Homo sapiens: one gene and its partners. The protein of the gene in region 3 interacts with the protein of the main gene of each other region in a biochemical or structural test. Each region holds a gene or a part of one and is shown on either strand. Other genes may lie near its edges.

Evidence for each region.
Region 1: the proteins of GIPC2 (region 3) and KCNA1 interact in a test that uses a peptide from one of them, tested with the Homo sapiens proteins (one large-scale study listed by IntAct).
Region 2: the proteins of GIPC2 (region 3) and MMP24 interact in a test that uses a peptide from one of them, tested with the Homo sapiens proteins (one large-scale study listed by IntAct).
Region 4: the proteins of GIPC2 (region 3) and ABCC4 interact in a test that uses a peptide from one of them, tested with the Homo sapiens proteins (one large-scale study listed by IntAct).
Region 5: the proteins of GIPC2 (region 3) and RAMP3 interact in a test that uses a peptide from one of them, tested with the Homo sapiens proteins (one large-scale study listed by IntAct).
Region 6: the proteins of GIPC2 (region 3) and TRAF7 interact in a test that uses a peptide from one of them, tested with the Homo sapiens proteins (one large-scale study listed by IntAct).
Region 7: the proteins of GIPC2 (region 3) and KIRREL2 interact in a test that uses a peptide from one of them, tested with the Homo sapiens proteins (one large-scale study listed by IntAct).

What each region holds. Positions count from the first base shown.
Region 1 is NC_000012.12:4,914,867-4,918,756, forward strand, and holds the end of KCNA1 (potassium voltage-gated channel subfamily A member 1), read left to right. Parts: 3' UTR 1-3,390; downstream 3,391-3,890. UniProt on the Homo sapiens protein: Voltage-gated potassium channel that mediates transmembrane potassium transport in excitable membranes, primarily in the brain and the central nervous system, but also in the kidney.
Region 2 is NC_000020.11:35,233,190-35,236,689, reverse strand, and holds part of MMP24 (matrix metalloproteinase-24 preproprotein), read right to left. Parts: intron 610-3,500; exon of another isoform or gene 499-609; intron 1-498. UniProt on the Homo sapiens protein: Metalloprotease that mediates cleavage of N-cadherin (CDH2) and acts as a regulator of neuro-immune interactions and neural stem cell quiescence.
Region 3 is NC_000001.11:78,122,466-78,125,965, forward strand, and holds part of GIPC2 (PDZ domain-containing protein GIPC2), read left to right. Parts: intron 1-3,415; coding exon 3,416-3,497; intron 3,498-3,500.
Region 4 is NC_000013.11:95,067,452-95,070,951, forward strand, and holds part of ABCC4 (ATP-binding cassette sub-family C member 4), read right to left. Parts: intron 1-3,500. UniProt on the Homo sapiens protein: ATP-dependent transporter of the ATP-binding cassette (ABC) family that actively extrudes physiological compounds and xenobiotics from cells.
Region 5 is NC_000007.14:45,164,291-45,167,790, forward strand, and holds part of RAMP3 (receptor activity-modifying protein 3 precursor), read left to right. Parts: intron 1-3,500. UniProt on the Homo sapiens protein: Accessory protein that interacts with and modulates the function of G-protein coupled receptors including calcitonin gene-related peptide type 1 receptor (CALCRL), calcitonin receptor (CALCR) and G-protein coupled estrogen receptor 1 (GPER1).
Region 6 is NC_000016.10:2,169,282-2,172,781, forward strand, and holds part of TRAF7 (E3 ubiquitin-protein ligase TRAF7), read left to right. Parts: intron 1-1,332; coding exon 1,333-1,449; intron 1,450-1,982; coding exon 1,983-2,075; intron 2,076-2,290; coding exon 2,291-2,324; intron 2,325-2,909; coding exon 2,910-3,093; intron 3,094-3,183; coding exon 3,184-3,318; intron 3,319-3,500. UniProt on the Homo sapiens protein: E3 ubiquitin and SUMO-protein ligase that plays a role in different biological processes such as innate immunity, inflammation or apoptosis. Potentiates MAP3K3-mediated activation of JUN/AP1 and DDIT3 transcriptional regulators.
Region 7 is NC_000019.10:35,859,911-35,863,410, forward strand, and holds part of KIRREL2 (kin of IRRE-like protein 2 isoform c precursor), read left to right. Parts: intron 1-386; coding exon 387-492; intron 493-608; coding exon 609-757; intron 758-998; coding exon 999-1,126; intron 1,127-1,211; coding exon 1,212-1,344; intron 1,345-1,630; coding exon 1,631-1,731; intron 1,732-1,894; coding exon 1,895-2,114; intron 2,115-2,582; coding exon 2,583-2,687; intron 2,688-3,004; exon of another isoform or gene 3,005-3,016; coding exon 3,017-3,126; intron 3,127-3,500. UniProt on the Homo sapiens protein: May regulate basal insulin secretion.

The DNA of each region.
Region 1 (3,890 bases), on a different chromosome or scaffold from region 3:
GAGGGCCACTTTGGACACACAAGGCTTCCTCAGGTCCAGTGTAGTGCTCCTGGCACCTTTCCTTATTTTTTTCTCTGTCGGTAACAGCACTTTGCAAATCTCTCTGACGGTCCAGTCTTTTCAGGCATTGTTGTGGATGTGGGAACACTCAGTTCATAATAACCTTTCCTAGGCCTTCCCTCCTGGTCTACCCCTTTCAGATATTTCCTGATGCCCCTATGATCTTCCCACCTGGCAGTCACTTCACAGGTTGAACATCTAACTTCTGCTGCCCCCCCGTTACCCAGCCCAGAGAATGGTGGGGACCCTGTTCCTGGCTGAAAGAGAGCCACGGAACACAGGCCTCTGGAGCTCGGCAGCTGCCCACCGGTGGAGAGGTACTCACAGCCTTTCAAAGGACCCTGAGGTGGGGAATCTTCATTCTGCACTTAGCATGTGGCTGCCTGTTACCTGACATTCTGGCCCAGCTTCTTCTGAAAATCTGTCCTGCTTCTCCCACCCCTTTCCCCCATCCTGTCCTAGAACTAGCAGTGAGGCAATCACCCTAGAAACTCGAGTTACACCCATTCTGGCTAACTCGATTAAAAGAAAGAACATGGATATCTTATTTTCCTATGTGACTTTTGTGAATCTGTGAGATGAACACAACACACATCGTGGAAGATGAGGGGCCAAGAACTGCGCAGCATCCGACTACAGGGCATTAAACCCTCCCATGTGATGTCTCCTTCTCGTCTGAACCTTAACTCATTCTGGCGATTCCTTTCCTACTTGCTTAAAAATCCCCAATTAGGAAAAAAATGCCAACCTCCTCCCAGGCTTGGGGTTATCTTGATCTTTCATTTCAACGTTGAGGTCTAGTGCACACAGAACTTGAAACACCGCACTCTGTCAACAGCAATAATCCACTCAGTACTGTGGGATGGATGGGTTAATGGATGAGAAAACGGCACCAAGACTGACTTTGGGTATTTGGTATATTTACCGTGGTTACACTCTGGACTGGTTGATTCTTCTGCATGTGATATAGAAAAAAGTGCTGCATGCGGTGAACCTGTCAGTCTGGGACTGGGGGTGAGTTGTTGTTATGAGTTTGGGGTGGTGTGAGGAAAGTGAATGCTGCTTAGCTCATCTGTAGCTCATTGCAATGAATTCAGTAAGAATGGAGTACAGGGATTATCTGTGTAGCATAGGCATGCAATGTTTGACCAAGCTCTTACCCTCGCACTGTAATGTGTTGAAATGTCTTTGTAGACCTGAAGGTGCACTTAACAAAACTGCCTATTAAGGGATGACTATTTTTTGGTTTACTTATTCATATTTATTTTAGCAGCCTTTTTACCTTTTCTTCCCCTTCCTAGGCATGGAGCTGTAACAGCTCATGTCCTGACTATGTGTTTTCTCCAGAAGGAGAAGACTTCTGATGTGCTGATAGCTATAATTCCTCTCTTCCAGTCTATTGGGGCCCTAGTTCAATAGGGTGGCAATAGAAGAGTTGGTCACACCAGGGCTGTTAGCCATCCCAGAATCTCTGAAGTGGTTAACTCACCTGAAGTGATCTGAATCAGAGAGACCAAAGACATTCATTTCCTCTGTCCTCAGATTTCTAGAAGACAAATTCTAGCCAGGAAAACTTTCTGTTTTTGCATCTCCCTTTTCCCATTTGTGCCCAACTCCCCTTGCACTCCCTGGAGACTTGAGTTCTGATTTTCAGTTATATCAGCTCATTGGGAGTGTGTTCGTGGGTGAGCCTTGCAGAATCAGATAAACCAATAGCAAGTCCTTCTCCAGGATTCTGGCCAGTGGGCAGTCATTTCCCTGAAATGAATTGTAGGGCAGGTTTAGATTCCACTATGGTGGACGTGAAGCACAGGTGGTGTCACAATCTTGATTTGCTTGAGAATTAAAAAAATACATGTAAATGGTAAATGAGGAATACATTTTTTTAAAGTAGAAATTTGGTTTAGCCTATAAAAGGCCTTCTTCACATTGTGTATAGTTACACGTTTTTCAAATTAGGTACCATCTAAAAGTCAATAAAAATAGTTTCCTAGCCCTCTCATTTAATATAGGAGACCTCAAAACACATGCTTTTTAACAATTTTACATTTTAATTCTTAGTTTGGTAGATTGGATTGAAAGAAAGGAGAAAGAACATTAGCAGAAGGCACTTTCCCATTTTCTTCCAGGAATGACTTATTCCTGGGGTGGTGAGAATTGGTGGGTGGTAACCATCCATAGTATAAAATTGTTAGAAAGAATATAAACTGCCAAACAAGCATGTTATCTTCAGGCTTTTCCAAGCAAGAATGAAGTCTTTTGATGTTTATGTTCATTTTAAGAAGACAAACAAACTAAAATTTTAAGACCAGACACAACCCAAGTTGAATTGTGATCTCAGGAGGTGAACTCTCATTCACCATGTGGCATATTACTACCTGTATTTATATCATGGAATTTCAGGGTATATGTGAACATGTCTAGTATGACTCAGGTAAACCTTTAAAGAATGTATGTTACTTACCATTTTTGTAAAGAAGCAAACAGGAGCTGAATTGTTAACCAAAACTGTTCCATTACCTTGGGTCACTGTGCAAACTAATTCAGGGTACAGATATAAAGTTTAGAAGCCTTGGGATTAAATGCCAGCCTCTTTGCTCAGGCAAAATGACCCTGGGCTTTCTTGGGAAGTCCAGCATGTATGTAAGGGGTGAGGCCCTGCTGACCTCAGGGCTTTTCGCTTTAAGGAGATTAACCCTAGTCACAGTGATTTTCATTTAGGAGCTAACTAGGAGTTTACTCTTTATGACGTGAAACTTCAAAGAGTATAGAAAACTTTTGTACCACAATCAAAGAAGAAGAAATGGTGTATGGAAAGAAAACAAAACAAAACAAGAAATCTCTTGTAAAATATTCCAGGTCAAAGTTGTCTCCTCTCCAAACCTTGCAGAAGCACCTTTCTTCTCTTCAGCGCACTGTTTTGGGACTGTTTATGCAGCAGATGTAAGTAGACAACATGGACTCCATGTGACATGCCTCTAATAGTAAAGATAAAGTATTACTGAGGTTAAAAATAAAAATTGAGTAGTATTAATTTAAAGTGCACCATCAGGACAACAAACCATTTAAGCTGAAAAAACGCTATTTTATTTCTTGAGTTTGCCAGTTGCTTCCACCTTGAGTTAAGGACGTGTCTCATCTTCACCTACTGCGCATTCTCCCTTCTCTAACTGTGTAATATGTCAGGTCAAGGACATTGAATGTTATGAATTGAGAACCTAATTGATGCGCATAGTTTTCATCTATGCAATTTTACTTGCTTCTGTCACTTTACGATCTGTTCATATTTGGCATCAATTAAAGATACTTTTTAAGGATCTTATCAAGGAATATCTTGACTGGTTATTTGTCTCTTGTTTAACTGGTCTTTTGGGGGCCCTTTTCTTCCCTTCTTCTGTGGGGTCTCTTTAAATAGTGGGGTGAATCCAAGATCAGATCATGAAACAGACTTGTTTCCTTTGGCCCACGTGGTCTGTTTCTGCTGTCCAAGGACATATCCGGGGGTTACCTTTTGAGGATAAATTCAGTTTGGTCTCAGGTAAGATCCCAAGTGAAGACCACTGGAATTTGGCCTGTGGAAGTTAGAGTGGAAGGAGGATCAAGCTTTCAAAATAAAACAAGAAATGAGGCTCAGGGGAACAAAGTAATTGGTTATATCCACTTAAGTTGTTTTGATTTGAAACTAGTTTTTATGCACAGTCTGAGAAGCTTTGCAGGAAGAATAATTGTGGGTGTGTGTGTGAGAGAGAGAGAGGGAGACAGAGACAGAGACACGACTGTGTGTGTGAGTGTAACAGAGTTGTGGTCTGGAATCAACTGACTTGATAGTT
Region 2 (3,500 bases), on a different chromosome or scaffold from region 3:
TGGTGATTTTTAATAAGTCATTTCTCCTCTTTGACCACCACGTTTGGTTATTGCTGCCAGACCAAATCACTGGGTCTTTCTGGTGACTCCTCAGGGATGGGTCCTATCACTGTGTCAGTTCCCTCCACTTCTTGTCCCACCAAAACCCTGCTTCCTCCTCTACCCATATAACTGAGGTCCCAGCCTTGCTGCTGAGCCCACCTGAGTTATATAACTAATTCGTAAAATTTCATACTGAAGGCATAATCATTCAGGTATCTAGAAAATGCACTGGTCACCAATACTCAGAGATCATCTAATTTAACATACTTGTTTTGCAGAAGAGAGAAAGAAAACTCCGGGAGGGGAAATGACTTATTCAAAATCACAGAGCAAGTTGGTAAGGAAGCCAGACATGGAGGCAAGCATCTCTGCCTCTCAGAGGGTTTTCTGTCATGCTACACCCTCTGCACTAGCTCTAGTTTGCCTCCAAATGCTGTTTTTTTTCTTCACTTACAGCCAATCTAAAAAGGGCCCTCAGGATCGCCCACAATGCCCAGCTTAGCTTCTTGACAAACACCTTAATGGCGCAGCATTGCCTGTTGGCTGCCATCGGCTCTTGAGTGGGTGGTAAGTGCACTAGCGGGAATTCCCTGGCGCTCTGCAGAATGTCCTTGGCCCACTCCCAGGAGGCCACCACAAGCCAGATGATCACCATACCCGGGGAGGTGGCACATTTGGGGTTTTGGGTCAGCACTGGGATGTCCAAGTTTTGCAGTTCTGGGGAGGCCTCTGCCCACAGTCAGGAGTGTGGCCATGGTCTCATTCACTCTCTGGAAAAGGAGAGGCCTTAGTCTTCCTCACCCTGTCCAAGGCCCTCCCGCAGATCTGCTAATTTTCTGTCCCCTGAGGCTCGACTTCTTGGTGAGTTAAGAAAAGGGAAAAGTGAAGACAAAGACCAGTGGCCAGGCCTCAGGGTTTTTAAAATTTAAATTAAAAAAAATTTTTTTTTGAGACATAGTCTTGCTCTTGTCACCCAGGCTGGAGTGCAATGGCGTGATTTTGGCTCACTGCAACCTCCGCCTCTCGGGTTCAAGTGATTCTCCTGCCTCAGCCTCCTAAGTAGCTGGGATTACAGGTGCCCACCACCACGCTCAGCTAATTCTTTGTATTTTTTAGTAAAGACAGGGTTTCACCCTATTGGCCAGGCTGATCTCGAACTTCTGACCTCAGGTGATCCACCCACCTCAGCCTCCCAAAGTGCTGGGATTACAAGTGTGAGCCACTGCACCTGGCCTAATTTTTTTAAGACAGGGTTTCACTCTATGGCCCAGGCTGCAGTGCAGTGGTACAATCTCTGCTCTCTGTAGCCTCAACTTCTTGGGCTCAAGCAATCCTCCTGCCTCAGTCTCCCAAGTAGCTGTGACTGTAGGTGTATGCCACCATACACAGCTAATCTTTGTATTTTTTGTAGAGATAGGGTTTCGCCATGTTGCCCAGGCTGGTCTCAAACTCCTGGGCTCAAGTGATCCTCCCAGCTTGGCCTCCCAAAGTGCTAGGGTTACAGATGTGAGCCCCACAGCCAGACCAAGTCTCAGTTTCTTAACTGCAACAGGGAGATGGTTGAACTAAATAACCTGTAAGTCATGTTAAAAAGTTCCATTATTTTAGCCTAAGTGGATTGACTGTGAAGCCGATCTTCTGGTTCCTCATTGCCAGTCTTAAAGTCCAGATTCTTTAGCATGACACAACAACCCTTACAATGTGATGCCAATGCACCTTTCCAGCCCTGTTTTCTTTTGTAGAGATGGGGTTCTGCTCTGTCGCTCAGGCTGGAGTGCAGTGGCACAATCATAGCTCACTATGACCTCAAACTCTTGGTCTCAAGCAATCCTCCAGCCTCAGCCTCCTGAGAAGCTGGGATTACAGGCATGAGCCACCATGCCTGGTTCTGCCAGCCTCATGTTCTGTCCTGTACCTTCTACCCTTTATTGCTCACCTCAAGTACCCCAACCTCTAGCTATACTGACCTAATTGTGTTGCCTGAGCATATCCTGCAGAGTCCTGCCTCTGTGCCTTTATTTCATTCCCTCTCCCTAGAACTCCTTTCCCATATGTACTCTGGCCTCCCCATGGTGCGCTACTTCAAAATGCAACTTGAATGCCACTTCATCAGGGAGGGCTATCTGTCTGGGGTTAAATGGACTTTCTATGTGCTCCCAATGGCATTATATGTATCCTCATTTATAGCATATTTTGTATTACATTATAAATAATGGTTTACATGCCTGTAGTCCCCTTTGAACTCATCCTCATGGAAGTTACAGCCGGTGGGAGAGATAGACATGGAAATACTAAACATTTCATTACAGTGGTGATAAGTGGAATGAAAGAGAAGAACCAGGAGCTACAAAAGTGTGTGGCAGGAGATATAGGCTGTGATATCAGGGATGGCCTCCCTGAGTACATGACATCTCAGCTGACATCTGTGAATGAACAGAAGAGGCTAGGTGAAGGCTGAGAATGAGACTCCAGGAAAGAGTACCTTACTGAATTCCTGAATGGGAAGGAGCCTGTATATTAGAAAAAGAGAGGGAAGGGCAGGGTGACTGGAGTCTAGTGACCAATGGGGAGAATGGGTGGTATAAAAGGAAGTCAGAGAGATGGGAAGGACTCAGTCATGCAGGGCCTCATCGGCTTCATTAAGCATGTTTTTGTTTTTGTTTTAGACAGGGTTTTGCGCTGTGGCCCAGGCTTGAGTGCAGTGGTGTGATCTCTGTCCACTGTAGCCTCAGCTTCCTGGGCTCAAGCAATCCTCCTGCCTCAGCCTCCCAAGTAGCTGTGACTACAGGCACATGCCACCACACCCAGCTACTCTTTGTATTTTTTTGTAGAGATGGGGTTTTGCCATGTTGCACAGGCTGGTCTCAAACTCCCGGACTCAAGTGATCCTTGTGGGTGCTGCGTCCAAGGGAGTTTATAATATTGTTCTTTCCATTTTCATATGCATTTGAAAGTTTTCCATAATAAAACTAAAAGGAAGAAGTGATAGTAGTACAGTAATAATAGTATAATCTTTGTCCTAAGAGTCATTTTAAGCCAGGTGAGGGTGGGAGTAAGGTGATCAGATTTTGGTTTGTTTTTAATTTTTTTTATTATTCAATATTTCAGTCATTCAGAAAGGCATAAAATAACAATATATATTGGAAAATCACCAGCCAGCTTTGTCAAACATTAGTTTTTGCCATATAGGCTTCAGATATAACTGACTCCTGAGTGGACTGATTGATTGATTCATTGATTGATTTTTGATACAGAGTCTTGCTTTGGCTGGAGTACAGTAGTTCAATCCTGGCTCACTGTAACCTCCGCCTCCCAGGTTCAAGTGATTCTTGTGCCTCAGCCACCCAAGTAGCTGGAACTACAGGCATGTACCACCATGCATAGCTAATTTTTTTGTATTTTTAATAGAGATAGGGTTTCACCATGTTGGCCAGGCTGGTCTCGAACTCCTGGCCTCA
Region 3 (3,500 bases):
GGGAGACCTCAAGAAACTTACAGTCATGGCAGAAGGTGAAGGGGAAGCAAGGCACGTCTTACATGGTGGCAGGAGAGAGTGAGTGTGCAGGAGAAACTGTCGCTTTTGAAACCATGAGATCTTGTGAGAACTCCCTCACTATCACGAGAACAGCCTGGGGGAAACCACCTCATGATGCAATCACCTCCCACCAGGTCCCTCCCTTGACACGTGGGGATTGCAATTCAAGATGGGATTTGGGTGGGCACACAGAGCCAAACCATATCAATTCTCCACTTGCATAACCTCATACTTTATTCAATATGTGCTTGCTGAGACAGGCACAGTCTAAGTGCTGGTGATACAAAGAAGAATAAAAACCCTGTTTCTCTTCTAAAAGGAGAGAAGCATGAAAAGAAGCTATTACAACCCAGTGGGATAGGGTTAATGGAAGCAGGTGCAGGATACACAGTGTCACAAAGAAGGGGCTGATCAGCCATTGACAGGGATTGGGGAAAGAAAGGAGGTCAGAAGGCTGGGTGCAGTAGCTCACGCCTGTAATCCCAGAACTTTGGAAGACTGATGTGGGTGGGTTACCTGAGGTCAGGAGTTCGAGACTAGCCTGGCCAATGTGATGAAACCCCATCTCTACTAAAAACATAAAAATTAGCTGGGCATGGTGCTGGGCACCTGTAATCCCAGCTACTTGGGAGGCTGAGGCAGGAGAATCACTTGAGCCCAGGAGGCGGAGGTTGCAGCGAGCCGAGATTATGCCATTGCACTCCAGCCTGGGTGACAGAGTGAGACTCCATCTCAAAAAAAAAAAAAAAAAAAGGGTCAGGAAGTGTTTCTCTCCGGAAGAAATTAGTGAGTGAGTTCAAAATGGGGAAGAAGAGTGTTCTAGGCATGGAACAATAATGGGTTTTGGGGACCTGTAAGCTGTTCATGAGATTGGAGTGTGGGGTGCTGGAAGTACTGGTTAGGTAGGGGTGATGAGGCTAGAGGCATAGGCTGGGGTTAGGATATGAAGGGCCTTGTGGATAATGAGGGAGCCATTTAAGAATTATGAGGGGAGTAACACAATCAGTTTTGTGTTTTAGAAAAATCCCTTGGTTCCAGGGTATGGGTTGTTGAGCAGCTTGGATTTGAGAGGGTGAAGACCAAAGGCAGGGAGACAAAATAGGAAACCTCTGCAAATCAGAAAAGATGAGGACTAAACACTGGCAAACAGAATGTGGATGGAGAAGAGGTGATAGATCCAGATCTGTTCCGTAGCAAATAGGAAATATTAGAATGGTAAAATATTGGTGGCCATTTGGGTATGAGGAGTACTGACACTTGTCACCGTAACTTAAAACGTGCCTGGATAGATATAAAGGTTAATACCTGTTAATTTGCATAGCCTGTTGCTTTATACAGACAATTCAAGATACATTGTAATGAAGGCAAGAGCAATATATTGTCTGTTATTGTTTTTAAGGTTTAGTTCTTGTAAATAAAAATGTGAGAAAGTTGTATTAATATCTTCAAGGAAATAGATTTTTATTTGCTATAAAATGCATGATTTTAATAAAATTTGAGACTACAAAACAACATATATTTATAACAGTATTGAAAGTAACATGAAATTCTTATAATCTAAATAATGAATTCTACATTTGCATGTATAGTTGAGTAGTTAACATCTTTGGGCAATTCCATTTTCAGCTATGATGCCATTTAAAGCCAAGTATTGAAATAAACTGAGCAGAATTTACCAAATATTAAACCAAAAATTTAAAATAATATTTTTACTGAAATGTTTAGTAATCATTTCGGGAAGAACAAAAATGTTTTGGTACCATTAATACATAACACAAAAATGATTTAAAAAGTATTATTTTATCATCTCATTCTTATAAAATTTCCTTTTTTGGTGTATTTTTATAATCTATACAATATATTAATATGGTAATACATGTGTAATTGATAAGCAATACATACAATAAAGTTAAAAATACACAATAAGGGTATTTGTTCAGAAAAGTTTTACTATTGGGATGAGCCATCAAACGTTTGGAGACCCTGGCCTGCACCATAAAGACCAAAGTCCTTTTCATGGTACACAGGACTCCTCAAGATCTAGTCATATTTGTCACTGTGTTCTCCAGCTACATGGGACTTCTGGCATCCCTCTAACATGACTCTGTGACCTTACTTAGACTTTGCCTATCTATTGCATCCTACTTGAAGTGTCCTCTCCTGCTTATCTCCTCTTCATCATTGAAAACACAGTTCTTGGCTGGGCGTGATGGCTCATGCCTGTAATTCCAGCACTTTAGGAGGCTGAGGTGGGCGGATCACTTGAGTCCAGGAATTGGAGACCAGCCTGGCCAACATGGTGAAACCCCGTCTCTACTAAAAAAATACAAAAAATTAGCTGGGCATGGTGGCGCACGCCTGTAATCCCAGCTACTTGGGAGGCAGAGGTTGCAGTGAGCTGAGATCACACCACTGCACTTCAGCCTGGGCAACAGAATGAGACTCTGTCTCAAACAAAACAAAACAAAACAAAGCAAGACAAAAAAACCCCGCCACAGTTCTTAAGACATCCTTCTTTTTCTCTGAGACAGGGTCTTGTCCTGTTGCCGGGTTGGAGGGCAGTGGCAGAATTATGGCTCACTACAGCCTCGTCATCCTGGGCTCAAGTGATCTTCCCACTTTAGCCTCCTGAGTGGCTGGGACTAAAGGTGCATACCACCACACCTGGTTACTTTTAAATTAAATTAATTAATTAGTAGAGATAGAATCTTGCCATGTTGCCCAGGCTTGTCTAGACCTCTCAGGTTCAAGTGATCCTCCTGTTTCAGCCTCCCAAGTGTCTGGGATTACAAGCATGTGCTACCACACCCAGCTAATTATTTTAATTAATTAATTAATTTTTTTTGTAGAGATGGAGTCTCACCATGTTGCCTGGGCTGGTCTTGAACTCCTAGGCTGAAGCAACTCTCCCACCGTGGCCTTCCAAAGTGCTGGGATTACAGGTGTGAGCCACTGTGCTCAGCCAAGTCACCTTCTTTCTAAAGTCTTCCATGACTGTTAGAGATATAAATTTGCTTCCTCCCCTGTGATGCTTCTGTGCCTTTTATATCCTTTAAAAACTGTTACATGTTATTTATTTTCACATCTGTTTCCTCTTCTAGATTGTTAGCTACTTGGGGATTGTGTTCCTGGCTTTTCTTTTTTGAATCCGTAACACTTAGTGCTGACACTAGAAATAAGTATTTACTGTATTGATTTGTATTTAGTTACAGAGCACATTCTAGATCTATTTCCATTAAAATTAGCTGAAATACACAATTATGAACCGGCTCCACATCAGGCTTTCTCTTGTGTATGCCCTGACAATCAAGAGATTTTGTTGTATAATATCTTATTTCTCTCTTTTTTGATAAAGCCTTCTGAAACCAAAGCAAAGGCAATTGAAAAGATTGATGATGTTCTTGAGTTGTACATGGGAATTCGAGATATTGATTTAGGTA
Region 4 (3,500 bases), on a different chromosome or scaffold from region 3:
AAATCACAGATTATTAGTCATCCAAAATTGCTTACCGGAGAGCAACGGCTTTAATGCAGGGGCAGGAGTGGGGGTGGTTCTTGTCCCAGTGCAATTTTAATCAAAAGGGTGGGGTGGGCCTGACAGTCTGCATTTCTAACATGTTTCCAAGCAGAGGCAGGTGATGCTGATCCCAGCCCCTGAGATGAGCAAGCAGGCAGGGCAAGTGGGACAATCTGGCTGTGAGAGGAGGGGTTTCTCAGCAAACATTAATGTAAAAAAGGAGAGAATATAAGAAACTAATATTTTTGCACACTATAGCAAGGTCTAGTACACATCTGTAAAAAGGTATTATCCAAGTAATAGCTTTGAGCAAGGAAAAAAAAATAACAAACCAAAATCAATCTACCTCTAGAGCTGAAAAATGCTTTAAAATGGCCCAGTACTCTCTAAAATGATTAAATCAACCACAAAACCATCTAAATGAAAAATGCAGCCAGTGTTTGGAATCTAACCAGGAAGGCTAGGGTGGTATATACCTCATTTTGGTTCATTCTTTTTTACTTGCTATTTCTTCTGTGAATTAGAAACCTACTTAGCGCCTATTACTTTTTCCTATTTGTTATAATGTCCAGGAAATCTGAGCAGATGAAGCAATTGAAAGAGAATGAAGCCCTGTTTCTGCTGTGTGGACACATTCCTACATCTCCACTGGAAACAATGCCCCTCTCCATCAGCTCCAACAGCAAAGGGACTGCCTGAGATCCTGGGGCTGCAGGCAGGTGTGGAGGAGACGAACCCTGAATATACACACAAAAAGTGGAACCAACTCACCACGATGTTGCCTGAATACACAAATGAAGCTAAAGGTGACACTGTGAGTGAACCAGGACACAAATCAAAAGCCAAGTGGGGCTCAGCGCAGTGGCTCATGCCTGTAATCCCAGCACTTTGGGAGGTCGAGGCAGGTGGATTGCTTGAGGTCGGGGTTCAAGACCAGCCTGACCAACATGGTGAAACCCCGGATCCACTAAATATACAAAAATTAGCCAGGCATGGCAGCGGGTGCCTGTAATTGCAGCTACTCGGGAGGCTGAGGCAGGAGAATCGCTTGAACCTGAGAGGCAGAATGAGCCAAGATTGCGCCACTGCACTCCAGCCTAGATGACACAGCGAGACTCTGTCTCAAAAGCCAAGTGGTTGTAGCTATAATTCAGTCTTCAAATTCAATTTACCCTCCCACATTTCAGATCTCAGGTAATCCTATGATTTGGGGGGGTTTTAAGATGGAACGATATCAATGTGGGGATATAGGTTGTTTTCTAATGTGTACAACAGAGGTTTGTAGATAATTCATATTTTATGGCTACAAGAGAAATTTACAACGTGGCCAAACTAACAGAATGATGTTGATCAGGTAGGACCTAATAACACATTGTCTGAGAGTAAGCAAACATCCCCCTGGCCCCATCAGGAACAGAATCTGAGAAACCTTGCTTTCAGCAAGAGCTACAGCTGATGCTGCCTGCAGAGTGGTCTCCACCTTCTTCACACTCACAAGGATGCTGGGTAGATAATGAGGAATCAGCTTTTGCTGGTTCCCTGGGTATCTTCTGGGCATGAAGCTGTATATTTATTTTTCATGGCACAAGGGTATCATTCATTCAATTGTGACTATAGCCCATTAAATGGGTCTGTGGTGGGAAGAGCTGAAAAGAGCAGTTCCGAAAGTATCTAACACTGACACCCAGAGAACGGGCTGTTGCGGGAGCTGTCGTGTGTGTTTTGTTACCGATTTCTTTGTATGTGCATATCCCTCACTCTCACAGGCACCCACCATGTGCCCTGCAGCATGCCATTTTCTGGGGGTACAGAGACGAATATAAAATGCTCCCTGACTTTAAGAGGCTCAGGGTACTGTGAGATGCTGACCCAGAATTATAAATCATGCCATCGTGCTATCTTCTTTAAAAAAAAATTGTGGTAAAATACACAAAAGGTACTTTATGTACTTTTCAAATTGTGGTAAAGTAACATAAAATTGATCATTGTAATCACTTGAAAATGTTCAGTTCAATTATATTAAATACATTCATGTTGTTGGGCAACCGTCACCATCATCCATCTCTAAAACTCCATTTATCTTGTAAAACTGAAACTCTGTACCCATTAAACACTAATGCCCATTCCCCTACCCCTGCCGCCCACCATCCTACTTTCTGTCTCCATGACTAACTACTCCAGGTACCCACATGTAAGTGGAACCTTATAGCACCGTCCTTAGGTGTCTGGCCTAATTCACTCAGCATAATGTCCTCAGGGCTCATCCATGTCAGAATCACACATGTCAGCATGTGTCAGAATCACCTTCTTTTTAAGTCTGGATAATATTCCATTATGCGTGCGTATCACATTTTGTTTTTCCATTCCTCAGTCAATGGACACTTGGGCTGCTTCCACCTACTGCTCACTGCAAATAATGCTGTTATGAACACGGGTGGGCCACAGATGTTACATTAAAGAATCTGGCCAGGCATGGTGGCTCATGCCTGTAATCCCAGGCATGATTTGGGAGGTTAAGGTGGGCGGATCACTTTAGCTCAGGAGTTCGAGACCAGCCATGGCCAACATGGCAAAACCTGGTCTCTACTAAAAATTCAAAAATGAGTTGGGTATGGTGGTGCACACCTATAATCCCAGCTACGGGGGAGGTTGAAGCAGGAAAATCGCTTGAACCTGGGAGGTGGAGGTTGCAGTGTGCCGGGAATGTGACATTGCACTCCAGCCTGGGCGACAGAGCAAGACTCTGTCTCGAAAAAAGAATCTATAAGATGATGTGGAGAATATAGTTTCAAAGAGGCAGAGATGCTTGAACTGACTGAAAAGGGTGCACACTAAGAGCAAGGCAGACAGGTGCTTGGGGAGAAGGAGGGCACCCTGAGTGCAGGGGATGTGTGTCCATATTGGGAGTTGTGAGGAGAGGGGTGGGAAGGGGAAGAGATTCTACTGTCTTGTTTGTTCTGGTTTAGTTCCTTCAAGAGGCTGTCCTAGTCCTAGCCAAGGGCCCCAGGACACATGTGAAAGGGACATTGCTGGCAGACTTAGATACCTGCAAAACCAGCTCACAAAACTCCACACAGCCTCCCAAGTCCCTCCTTGTTTTCCTTTCACTGACTTTGAGTGAGTCTCTGGTGCCTTTACTGCCTCCAGCTTGGGGGTCTGATTTCTGAGCACTGATGGGGTCATGGGATCTGGGTCTTCCCTTGGGGGCTGAGAGCCAGACAGGTCCTGTCAGGGTGGGCCTGGGGCTCATTAAGGTTGCAGCAGCTGCTCACCCAGGCAAGGAGCTGGCCACGTAAGGATCAGATCTGTGATCAAACTGTTTCAGAAAGAAAGAGTTTGCAGTGAAAGGGATGGGGAGGGAAAGCAAAGCACAGGTTAAAGGAAGGCAAGAAAGACTAAGGAAAGGGCCTGATAATGTTTGGCTGTGTCCCCACCCAAATCTCATCTTAAATTCCCAC
Region 5 (3,500 bases), on a different chromosome or scaffold from region 3:
GTAATTCCAGCACTTTGGGAGGCCAAGGCGAGAGGATCACTGGAGCCTAGCCTGGGTAATATGAGATCTTGTCTCTACAAATAACAAAAAAAAAATTAGCTGAGTGTGGTGGCACATGCCTGTGGTCCCAGCTACTCAGGAGGCTGGGGTGGGAGGATTGCTCAAGCCCAGGCAGTGAAGGCTGCAGTGAGTCATGATCACACCACTGTACTCCAGCCTCGGTGACAGAGTGAGACTTTGTCTCAAAAGAAAAAAAAAAGAATTCTCCAATTATAATTGTGAAATTGTGGATTTGTCATTTTCTTTTTGTAGTTCTGTTTTTGCCTTGTGTGTTTTGATGCTGTTATTAGGTGCATACATATTTAGGATTGCTACATCATCTTGATGAATTGAGCCCTTTATTGTATTGAAAAGACCCTCTTTATCTCTAGTAATATTTTTTGCTCCAAAACATACTTTGTCTGATATTAATATAGCCACTCCATCTTTCTTTTGATTAGTGGTAGCAAGATGTGTCTTTTCCCACTCTTTTATTTTGAACCTATTTGAGTCTTTTCATTTAAAGTTGGATTCTTGTTGGCAGCCTACTGTTGGACCTTACTTTTTGTTCTTATTTGACAATCTTTGCTTCTTAGTTGAAGTGCTTAGACCATTTACTTTCAATCTGATTATTGATATGGTTAGATTTAAATCTACCATTGTACCATCAATTCTTTTCCTCTCTTTTCTCCTTTTCTGCCTTCTTTTGGACTTAGTATTTATTATTATTACTCCATTTCTTTTTCCTCTTGCCCTTCTCCTCCTCCTCCATCCTTGCTAATTGGGTGTAATTCTTTTTTTTGTTTTGTTACTCCAGTGGTTGGTTCAGGGTTTATGGTATACATCTTTAATTCATCAATCTGTCTTCAGGTGACATTACACTGATTCATGGATAGCCTAAGAACCTTCCATTTCTCTCCTCCTGAACTTTATGCCATTGCTGTCATATATTTTATTTAAATCAAAGTTATAAATCTCACAATACATGATTATTATTTTTTACAGAATTTAGACATTGAGAAAAATTCTATATATTTACTTGCATAGTTAAAATTTCTGATCTCCTCCATTCCTTTGCATAGGTCCATATTGGCTTCTGATAGGCTTTCCTAAACATTACTTATAGTTTGGGTGTGTGGGTGATATTTCCTTTCACCTTTTGTATGTTTGAAAAAGTTTTTATTATGCCTTAAAAAGCCAGCATTATTGAGATATAATTCACATGCCACACAATTCACCCATTTAAAGTATACATCAATATTTTTTAGTACATTCCTAGAATTTTGCAACCATCACTATACTCAATTATGGAACGTTGTTGTCACCACAAAAATAAACCCCCTACCCATTAGCAGTCACTCCCTATTTCCTCCAACCCCCTTAGCCTTAAGGAATCACTAATATGTTTTCTGTCTCTAGATTTGCTTGTTCTGCACATTTAGTGTAAATGGCATCATATAATATGTGAGATTTTGTGACTGGCTTCTCTCACAGCAGAATGTTTTTAAGGTTCATTCATATAGTGGTATGTTTTAGCACTTCACTCTTTTATGTACAAATAATATTCTATCACATGGGTATACCACATTCTAGCCATTCATCAGCTGATGGACATTATTTCATCTTTTGGCTATTATGAATAATGCTGTTATGAATCTTCATGTAAAAATCTGTGTGTGAACATGTGCGGTATAAATTTAGGAGTGGAACTGTGTAGTCATATGGTAACTCTACGTTTAACATTTTGAGAAACTGCTAGACTAGTTTCCAACGTGGCTGCTTCATTTTACATTCCAATCAGCAGTAGTATATAAAGGTTCCAATTTCTGCATGTCCTCACTGACACTTTTTTTTTTTTTTTCTGAGAGAGGGTCTCATTCTGTTGCCCAGTCTGGAGTGCAGTGGTGCAGTCATAGCTCACTGCAACCCCGGACTCCTCAAGCCATCCTCCCACTTCAACCTCCCAAATGTCTGGGGTTACAAGTGTGTGCTATCACGTCTGACTGCCTTTTTGATGATAGCCATTCTGGTGGGTGTGAGTGGTATGTGATTGTGGTTTGATTTGCATTTCCCTGATGGTTAATGATGTTGATTGTCTTTCATGTGCTTATTGATCATTTATATATATTTTTGTAGAAATGACTATTCATATCCTTTGCCCATTTTTAATTGCTTTATTTTTCCCTTTATTATGGAGTTGTAAGAATTCTTTATGTAACCTGGGTACAAGTCTTTTATCAGATATACAACTTGCATATATTTTCTTTCATTCAGTGGGTTGTCTTTTCACTCTCTTGATGCTATCCTTTGAAGTACAGAAGTTTTAAAATTTGACGTGTCTAATTTATCTATTTTTCTTTTGTTTCTTGGGTTTTTGGTGTCATGTATAAGAAGGCTTTTTCTCACACAAGGGCACAAAGATTTTCTCCTGTATTTTTCTAAAAGTTTTATTTATTTATTTTTTGAGACAGAGGCTTGCTTTGTTGCCCAGACTGGAGTGCAGTGGCGCAATCTCAGCTCACTGCAACCTCGGCCTCCCAGGTTCAAGCTATTCTTGTGCCTCAGCCTCCCGAATAGCTGGGTAATCTAAGAGTTTTATAATTTAGCTCTACATGTAGGTCTTTGATGCTTTTTTTTTTTTTTTTTGAGACAGAGTCTTGCCTTGTTGCCCAGGCTGGAGTGCAGTGGTATGATCTCCGCTCACTGCAAGCTCCGCCTCCTGGGTTCACGCCATTCTCCTGCCTCAGCCTCCCCAGTGGCTGGGACTACAGGTGCCCGCTACCTCGCCCGGCTAATTTTTTGTACTTTTAGTAGAGACGCGGTTTCAGTGTGTTAGCTAGGATGGTCTCGATCTCCTGACCTCGTGATCTGCCTGCCACGGCCTCCCAAAGTGCTGGGATTACAGGCGTGAGCCACGGCGCCCGGCCTGTGATCCATTTTGAGTTAATTTTCGTGTATGAGGTGAGAAGGGTCCGACTTTATTCTTTGGCAAGTGTATATCCAGTTGTCGCAGTACCATTTGTTGAAAAGAGTATTCTTTCTCTGGTGAATTGTCTTGGTACCTTTGTAGAAAATCAATTTATCATAAGTGTGAGGGTGTATTCCTGGACTCTGAATTCTATTCCACTGGTCTATTTATCTAACCTTATGCCAGTACCATGCTATCTTGATTACTGTTGCCATGTTGTAAGTTGTAAGATTGGGATGTGTGAGTCCTACAACTTTGTTCTTTTTTTTTTTTTTTTATTTTTGAGACGGAGTTTCATTCTTGTTGCCCAGGCTGGAGTGCAATGGCGCGATCTCGGCTCACCGCAACCTCCGCCTCCCGGGTTCAAGCGATTCTCCTGCCTCCTGCCTTGGGAAGCCTCTCCTGAGGCTTCCCAAGTAGCTGGGATTACAGGCATGCGCCACCACGCCCGGGTAATTTTGTATTTTTAGTAGAGACGGGGTTTCTCCATGTT
Region 6 (3,500 bases), on a different chromosome or scaffold from region 3:
CCAGAAAAGAAGTTTTTAATTAATTGAACAAACACACCTGTGTGCCGGGCGCTGTGCTAGGCCGAGGGCGAGTTGGGTATGTCTGGGCCCCGTCCCCTGGGCCTCTGCCTGCCTCGGTCTCCACAACCCGAAGCCACGAGTCCTCCATGTCTGTGGTTCCCATAATCACCTGCTATCCCCATGGGTCACGGTGGCTTTCAAGAGAGGCGGGTACCTTCTCTGTTTGCTGATAGGCCCACACAGGGAGTCCCCCTCCTGCCCTTCCCCCGTCCCCCAGGCCTGCCTGCTGTCAGCCCCTACGCCCAAGAGGGTGGGAGACTCTGGGGTAGTATTGGGCAGGCCCGGGAGAGTGGTTCCCGTGCCAGCTCCTGCTCTGCTCTCGCCCCTGGGGCTCCCTCTGCTGCTGTGGGGCCTTGTGACTCACTTTCTCTGACTCCCTTCTGTTCCCCATGTGCTGCTTCCATGCAGACGGGCCCTTGGGACCCAAAGGGAGGTGGGTACATGGCACACAATGCCCCCCGCCGGCCTTGGGACTGGTTTGCCTCTGTGCTCTGTGGGTTTCATACCCAGGCTGCCGGGAAGGGGGCCAGAGGCTCGGCAGAGCAGCAGCTGGGCCCCTCTGCAGTCAAAGCACCAGGAGAGAAGCCTTGGGCAGTGTGGCTCTTGGAAACTTCTGGAGGTTTCCAGGCCAGAGGGGAGGAAGGGACAGTGTCTGCCCCTCCCCCAGGCTCCCTTGTCGGTGGCTCAGCCAGAGGCAGGCACCTGTGGCCCTCACTCCTGCCCTCGGGAAGCTCAGCCGAGGTTCTCTGGGGGCCTGGCCCTGCCTTCCCTCTGAGCCTCCCAGCTGGGCCTGGTGTCCCCCACCAGCAAGGCCAGACAAGCAGCCAGGCCCGGGGGGCACCTGGAGCCCAGCCGTCGCTCCCTGCCAGCATTCCTGGCCCTTCCATCCTGCGGTCACGGCCTCGGCTGTCCAGGATTGGCTGGTGGAGGTGCCCCCTCACGGCCCACATTCCCCCACGGGAAGCAGGAAGCAGCCCGGGTATATGGAATTGAATAGCAGGAAGTCTCTCCATTTACACAAAGAGAGGTGGCAGGCGTGAGCGGGCAGCCCAGCACCCCGGCCCAGGCCGCCCAGGCGGGCAGGCAGGGACCTGGGTTGCATCAGCTCCCCACGCCCACCCACGGCCCCCGTGGACGAGGAGAGTACCCGCAGGGACCGGGGTGGCCCCAGGGGTGCTGCTGCCCTCGCGCTTCCGCCGGGCTGGGTCCTGTCCTCCCCGAGGCTCTGACCCCGTGCGGAGCCCCCCGACAGGCGCCTCTCCCTCCACACAGCCCCCCATCAGCACTCCCCGCCGCTCCGACTCCGCCATCTCTGTCCGCTCCCTGCACTCAGAGTCCAGCATGTCTCTGCGCTCCACATTCTCACTGCCCGAGGAGGAGGAGGAGCCGGTAGGTGTGGGGGACTCGGCGCAGAGCGGCTTCCAGGGCTGTCACCGCAGCCGTGGCACGGAGGCACCTTCCCCTCCGCCATGCCCGCCCAGCTCACAGGGAGAGGGCGGCTGGGGCCTGACGGGAACTGCAGTGCTTGCTGGTCCGTGGTGGGGACTCGAGGGACCAGGCCGGGTCCCCTGGGCATGTTCCCCCACTCCCCCTTCTCAGGGCTGCCCGGGAACTGGCAGCGGGAAGCACAGGGCTCCAGCAGGGCCCTTTCTAGTCTCACCCCAGGAAGGAGGCGGGCGAGGGCGGCCAAGGCTGGGCGGCTGAACTCATCCTCCGGGGTTGGGCCCTGCCTCTGGGGCCACAGACCTCGCTCTCCCTCCTGGGCCCCGATCAAGCCCCCCAGCTCTAAGCAGGCCTCTCTCAGGACGTGACCCTGTCCTCAGAGGACAGCCAGGCCTGGAGCAAGAGCGCCTGGGTGCCTGGGTGGTGGCGGGGCTGAGGGTGGCCTCCCGCCATCGCCTGCCTTTCCCGCTTGGTTCCAGGAGCCACTGGTGTTTGCGGAGCAGCCCTCGGTGAAGCTGTGCTGTCAGCTCTGCTGCAGCGTCTTCAAAGACCCCGTGATCACCACGTGTGGGGTGAGCCCGCCGCCCTTCCCAGCCCCCCTGCTGCCAGAGGCCCCCACAGGACCCCAGGGCTCTCGGGGGCCGGGGCTGTGGCGCCCTGGCCTTGGTCAAGGCCTGTCCTGGCTGCACTGGGCTTGGGGTACAGCGAGGCCTGTGGCTGCCATGGCCATGGACTAGGGAAAAAGAGGACCCTGCGCCACCCTCAAGCCCGCCCTTTGCCTCCACAGCACACGTTCTGTAGGAGATGCGCCTTGAAGTCAGGTAGGTTTGTGCCCCGGCCCAGGCCTGACGCCGACCGTGCCCATGGCTGCCGAGCAGAGGCGGGCGGCTTCTCCCTTGTCCCCTGCACAGCGTCCGGCCCTGTTTGGCCTCTGCTGGGGTTGGGATGGGGCTGCAGCCGTCCTAGGGACGCTCAGGCTGAGGCTCGGGACCTCCATGAGCAGAGTGGGGACACCCCAAATTCCAGTGTGTCCAGACTCAGAGACCCCACAGTGGGTGTGGGCCGAGGCTCCCCATGCCAGGGTTGGCACCCTCTGGGGAGGCCTTTCTCACTGGCGAGGCTGTCGTCCTCCCGCACGGCGCCCGCTCCTGCCTGCCTCTCCGCACTCTGCCCTCTGCCCTCTTGGCCCCACCCCACACTTTTCCGGGCACAGCTGAGTGTCACAGGTGACACTCCCTCAGCACCTGCTGCTCCTTCTTGGTGGCCCACCTGTGCCCCCGTTCCCATGTTGCGTGCCTCAGAGGCGCAGATGGACAGATCTGGCCCCCATTAGAGGCTCATGCCCACCCGGGTGAGGGAGCGTGTGCCAGGCAGGCCGTGAGGGTCAGCACGCCCTCCTCTCCCAGAGAAGTGTCCCGTGGACAACGTCAAACTGACCGTGGTGGTGAACAACATCGCGGTGGCCGAGCAGATCGGGGAGCTCTTCATCCACTGCCGGCACGGCTGCCGGGTAGCGGGCAGCGGGAAGCCCCCCATCTTTGAGGTGGACCCCCGAGGGTGCCCCTTCACCATCAAGCTCAGCGCCCGGAAGTAAGTGCCCCTCCCTGGGCACCTCTGCCTCCCTGGGGGCTGCTTCTCAGGGCTCTGGCTGAGGCCTCCCCGCATCCCGCCCTGGCACAGGGACCACGAGGGCAGCTGTGACTACAGGCCTGTGCGGTGTCCCAACAACCCCAGCTGCCCCCCGCTGCTCAGGATGAACCTGGAGGCCCACCTCAAGGAGTGCGAGCACATCAAATGCCCCCACTCCAAGTACGGGTGAGTGGGGGGCGGGCGGGGGTGGGCCGGGGTGGGCGCAGGCCCTCCACAGGCTCCGCTGAGAGCTGCCCGCTTGCTGGTCCCGGGGAGGTAGGCCGGAGCTGGGGCCACACCGGGGTCTGTAATCCTCTCTGAGGCCCAAGGCCCTGGAAACCCAGAGGGGGAGCCGAGGGCGTCCAGGA
Region 7 (3,500 bases), on a different chromosome or scaffold from region 3:
AGCACACACTTGTAATTCCAGCTACCTGGGAGGCTGAGGCAGGAGAATCACTTGTACCCGGGAGGCAGATGTTGCGGTGAGCCGAGATCATGCCACTCAGCAGCAGAGTGAGACTCCGAGCAGGAGAGGACAGACAGCTGGGGTCCCTGGGGAAAGAGAAAGCTGGGCCTTGACTCTCACATCGGGGAGACTAGGAGAGGGCAGAAGGCTGGCACATTGAGGTAACTGGGGAAATTGGGAACTGAAAGCCCAGACTCCTGGCTCAAAGGGAGAAGGGGATTAGGGGCCCAGACTCCTGGGATGGAGGAACCAGGGACTGGACACCTAGGCCAGTGACGGAGGTGTTCCTGGTCCTTGCCCATCTGACCATTGTCCCACCCTCACAGACCCCCCAGAGGTGACTCTGTCTGCTTCGCCACACACTGTGCAGGAGGGAGAGAAGGTCATTTTCCTGTGCCAGGCCACAGCCCAGCCTCCTGTCACAGGCTACAGGTGAGGACGAAGACCCACCTCTCCCCAGCCCCAAGAGTGAGCTTGGGAAGGGCTGGGACCTGAGTAGGTGTGCCAGAGAGGCCAGGACAACGTTAACAGCGCCACCATTTCCTCAGGTGGGCAAAAGGGGGCTCTCCGGTGCTCGGGGCCCGCGGGCCAAGGTTAGAGGTCGTGGCAGACGCCTCGTTCCTGACTGAGCCCGTGTCCTGCGAGGTCAGCAACGCCGTGGGTAGCGCCAACCGCAGTACTGCGCTGGATGTGCTGTGTGAGCTGGGGCCGGCCTGTGGGTGTGGTCAAAGGTGGCCGTGGCTTTCAGGGCTGTTGAGGGTCGGGGCCTGGAGGGGCGGGGCCGGGAGAGCGAGCGTGGGGTATTAGGAGGAGGAGAGTGTGGAGCTGGGGCATATTCTTGCGCCCTAGAGGGTGTGGTGTTTCTGTGGGGCTGGCTGATCCCAGGTCAGTGGCTGCATTCCGCCCCGGCCATGTGACCCCTAGTCTCTTTCGTCCAGTTGGGCCGATTCTGCAGGCAAAGCCGGAGCCCGTGTCCGTGGACGTGGGGGAAGACGCTTCCTTCAGCTGCGCCTGGCGCGGGAACCCGCTTCCACGGGTAACCTGGACCCGCCGCGGTGGCGCGCAGGTACAGCCCTAAATCTGAGGCGGTGGCTGGAGGGGGACCAGGCTTCCTTACAAATCCGGCTTCTGACGCCCCTTCCCTGTCGCAGGTGCTGGGCTCTGGAGCCACACTGCGTCTTCCGTCGGTGGGGCCCGAGGACGCAGGCGACTATGTGTGCAGAGCTGAGGCTGGGCTATCGGGCCTGCGGGGCGGCGCCGCGGAGGCTCGGCTGACTGTGAACGGTGAGAAGGCGGGGCTTCCTAGGGGACCTGGCCCGTCCTGGGATAGGGAGCGGACAGAGGGGGCAAGGGCTAATGCAGTGGGAGTGGCCTGGAAGGAGCTTTACACCCAGCGGGGGCTGGAGACCGGACCTATTGAAGGCGAGGCTTTTAGGAGAATCGGAGTTTGGAGGCGGCGTGGCCTGATTGATTGAGGTTAGCGGAGAGTGCGCTGGACAGACCCGGCTTTGTTACAGCCTTTGGGGAGGGCAAGACCTCTCCTCTGAGTGACCTACAGTCTCCATCCCAGCTCCCCCAGTAGTGACCGCCCTGCACTCTGCGCCTGCCTTCCTGAGGGGCCCTGCTCGCCTCCAGTGTCTGGTTTTCGCCTCTCCCGCCCCAGATGCCGTGGTAAGGAAATGTCACTCCTCCCGTGACCCATCCAGCCGTGATCCCTGACCTCCCACCTGGCCCCCCGAAACTACTGTGACCATTTCTGACTTCCCAGACATCCCTCCTGCTTCTTCCTCCCCTCCTCAGTCTCCTCCGTGTCCTCCCTCTTTTGTGCCCCCAGGTCTGGTCTTGGGATGAGGGCTTCCTGGAGGCGGGGTCGCAGGGCCGGTTCCTGGTGGAGACATTCCCTGCCCCAGAGAGCCGCGGGGGACTGGGTCCGGGCCTGATCTCTGTGCTACACATTTCGGGGACCCAGGAGTCTGACTTTAGCAGGAGCTTTAACTGCAGTGCCCGGAACCGGCTGGGCGAGGGAGGTGCCCAGGCCAGCCTGGGCCGTAGAGGTGAGACCCCAGCCCGAAGACCCCAAATCTGGAGAGTCTAAACCCCACAAACGCAGGGATCCCCCAGCCGAGGGCTGCAAAACCTCATACCCTCAAATGCAGAGGAGACCTCCAAACCTCGGGAGTCTCAAAACTGTGGGCTCATTGATTCCCAAGACACCCCTCAACCACAAATGCCTTCACATTCTGAATCCTAAACTGAGAGACTCCTCACACCTAGGGGCCCCAAAAAGGGAAACTCCAATGATTGCAAAGCAAATTGCAAAGTAAAGGACCCCTCAAATTCTAAGACTCCCTAAAGCCAGGGAGTTTAAACTCACTCTCAAACTTGGGGAACCCCAAATTCAAGGGCCTTTGAATCTTCAAATGTGCGACCTTTTGAACCCAGGAATCCCAAACTCAATCCCTGAGCCCCCGCTTCCTGGTTCCCCCTCAGCCTTCTCAGGATGTCCCCTCTGCTCCCTGCAGACTTGCTGCCCACTGTGCGGATAGTGGCCGGAGTGGCCGCTGCCACCACAACTCTCCTTATGGTCATCACTGGGGTGGCCCTCTGCTGCTGGCGCCACAGCAAGGGTTAGTGCCTGAGCCCCGCCCCGGCTCCCGAGGCCCCAGCCCCACACGCGCCCTGCCTGCCCAGTGACCTGACCTGGCCTTGGGCCTTGGCTCCAGTCCCATTTCCAGCTCTGCACAGGGCTTAGCTCTCCTTCACGTTCTGGTTCCCTCCTTAAGCCCTAACTAGGCCTTCCCAGGGTCACACTCCTCGGTGGGAATGATTCTTATTGGTTTCCAACAGCCCTACCCAATCAGCCTCATTGGTTCCCAGTCCTCTCTCTTCCCGCTTATTGGTCTGCACACATTGTGACCCCGCCCATCGCTTAACTCCACCGGTCGCTGTTTGTCAGCCTCAGCCTCTTTCTCCGAGCAAAAGAACCTGATGCGAATCCCTGGCAGCAGCGACGGCTCCAGTTCACGAGGTCCTGAAGAAGAGGAGACAGGCAGCCGCGAGGACCGGGTAGGATGCCAGGGTCCCCAGACCTGACTGTGCCTCCAGACCTAAATAATAGCCCAGTCCCAAGAGGGTCCCCAAATTCAAATAGGACTCTAAGGCCAGGCATGGTGCCTGACGTTGGTAATACCACTTTGGGAGGTGGAGACACAAGGATCACTTAAGGCCAGGAATTCAAAGCCAGCCTGGACAGCATAGCAGGACCCCATCTCTACAAAAATACAAACTAAAATAAAATAAAAAATGAACCGGGTATGGTGGCATACACCTATAGTCCCAGCTACTCAGGACACTGAGGTGGGAGGATCCCTTGAGCACAGGAGGTAAAGGCTGCAGTGAGCTATGATTGCACCATGCACTCCAGCCTGGGCTACAGAGCA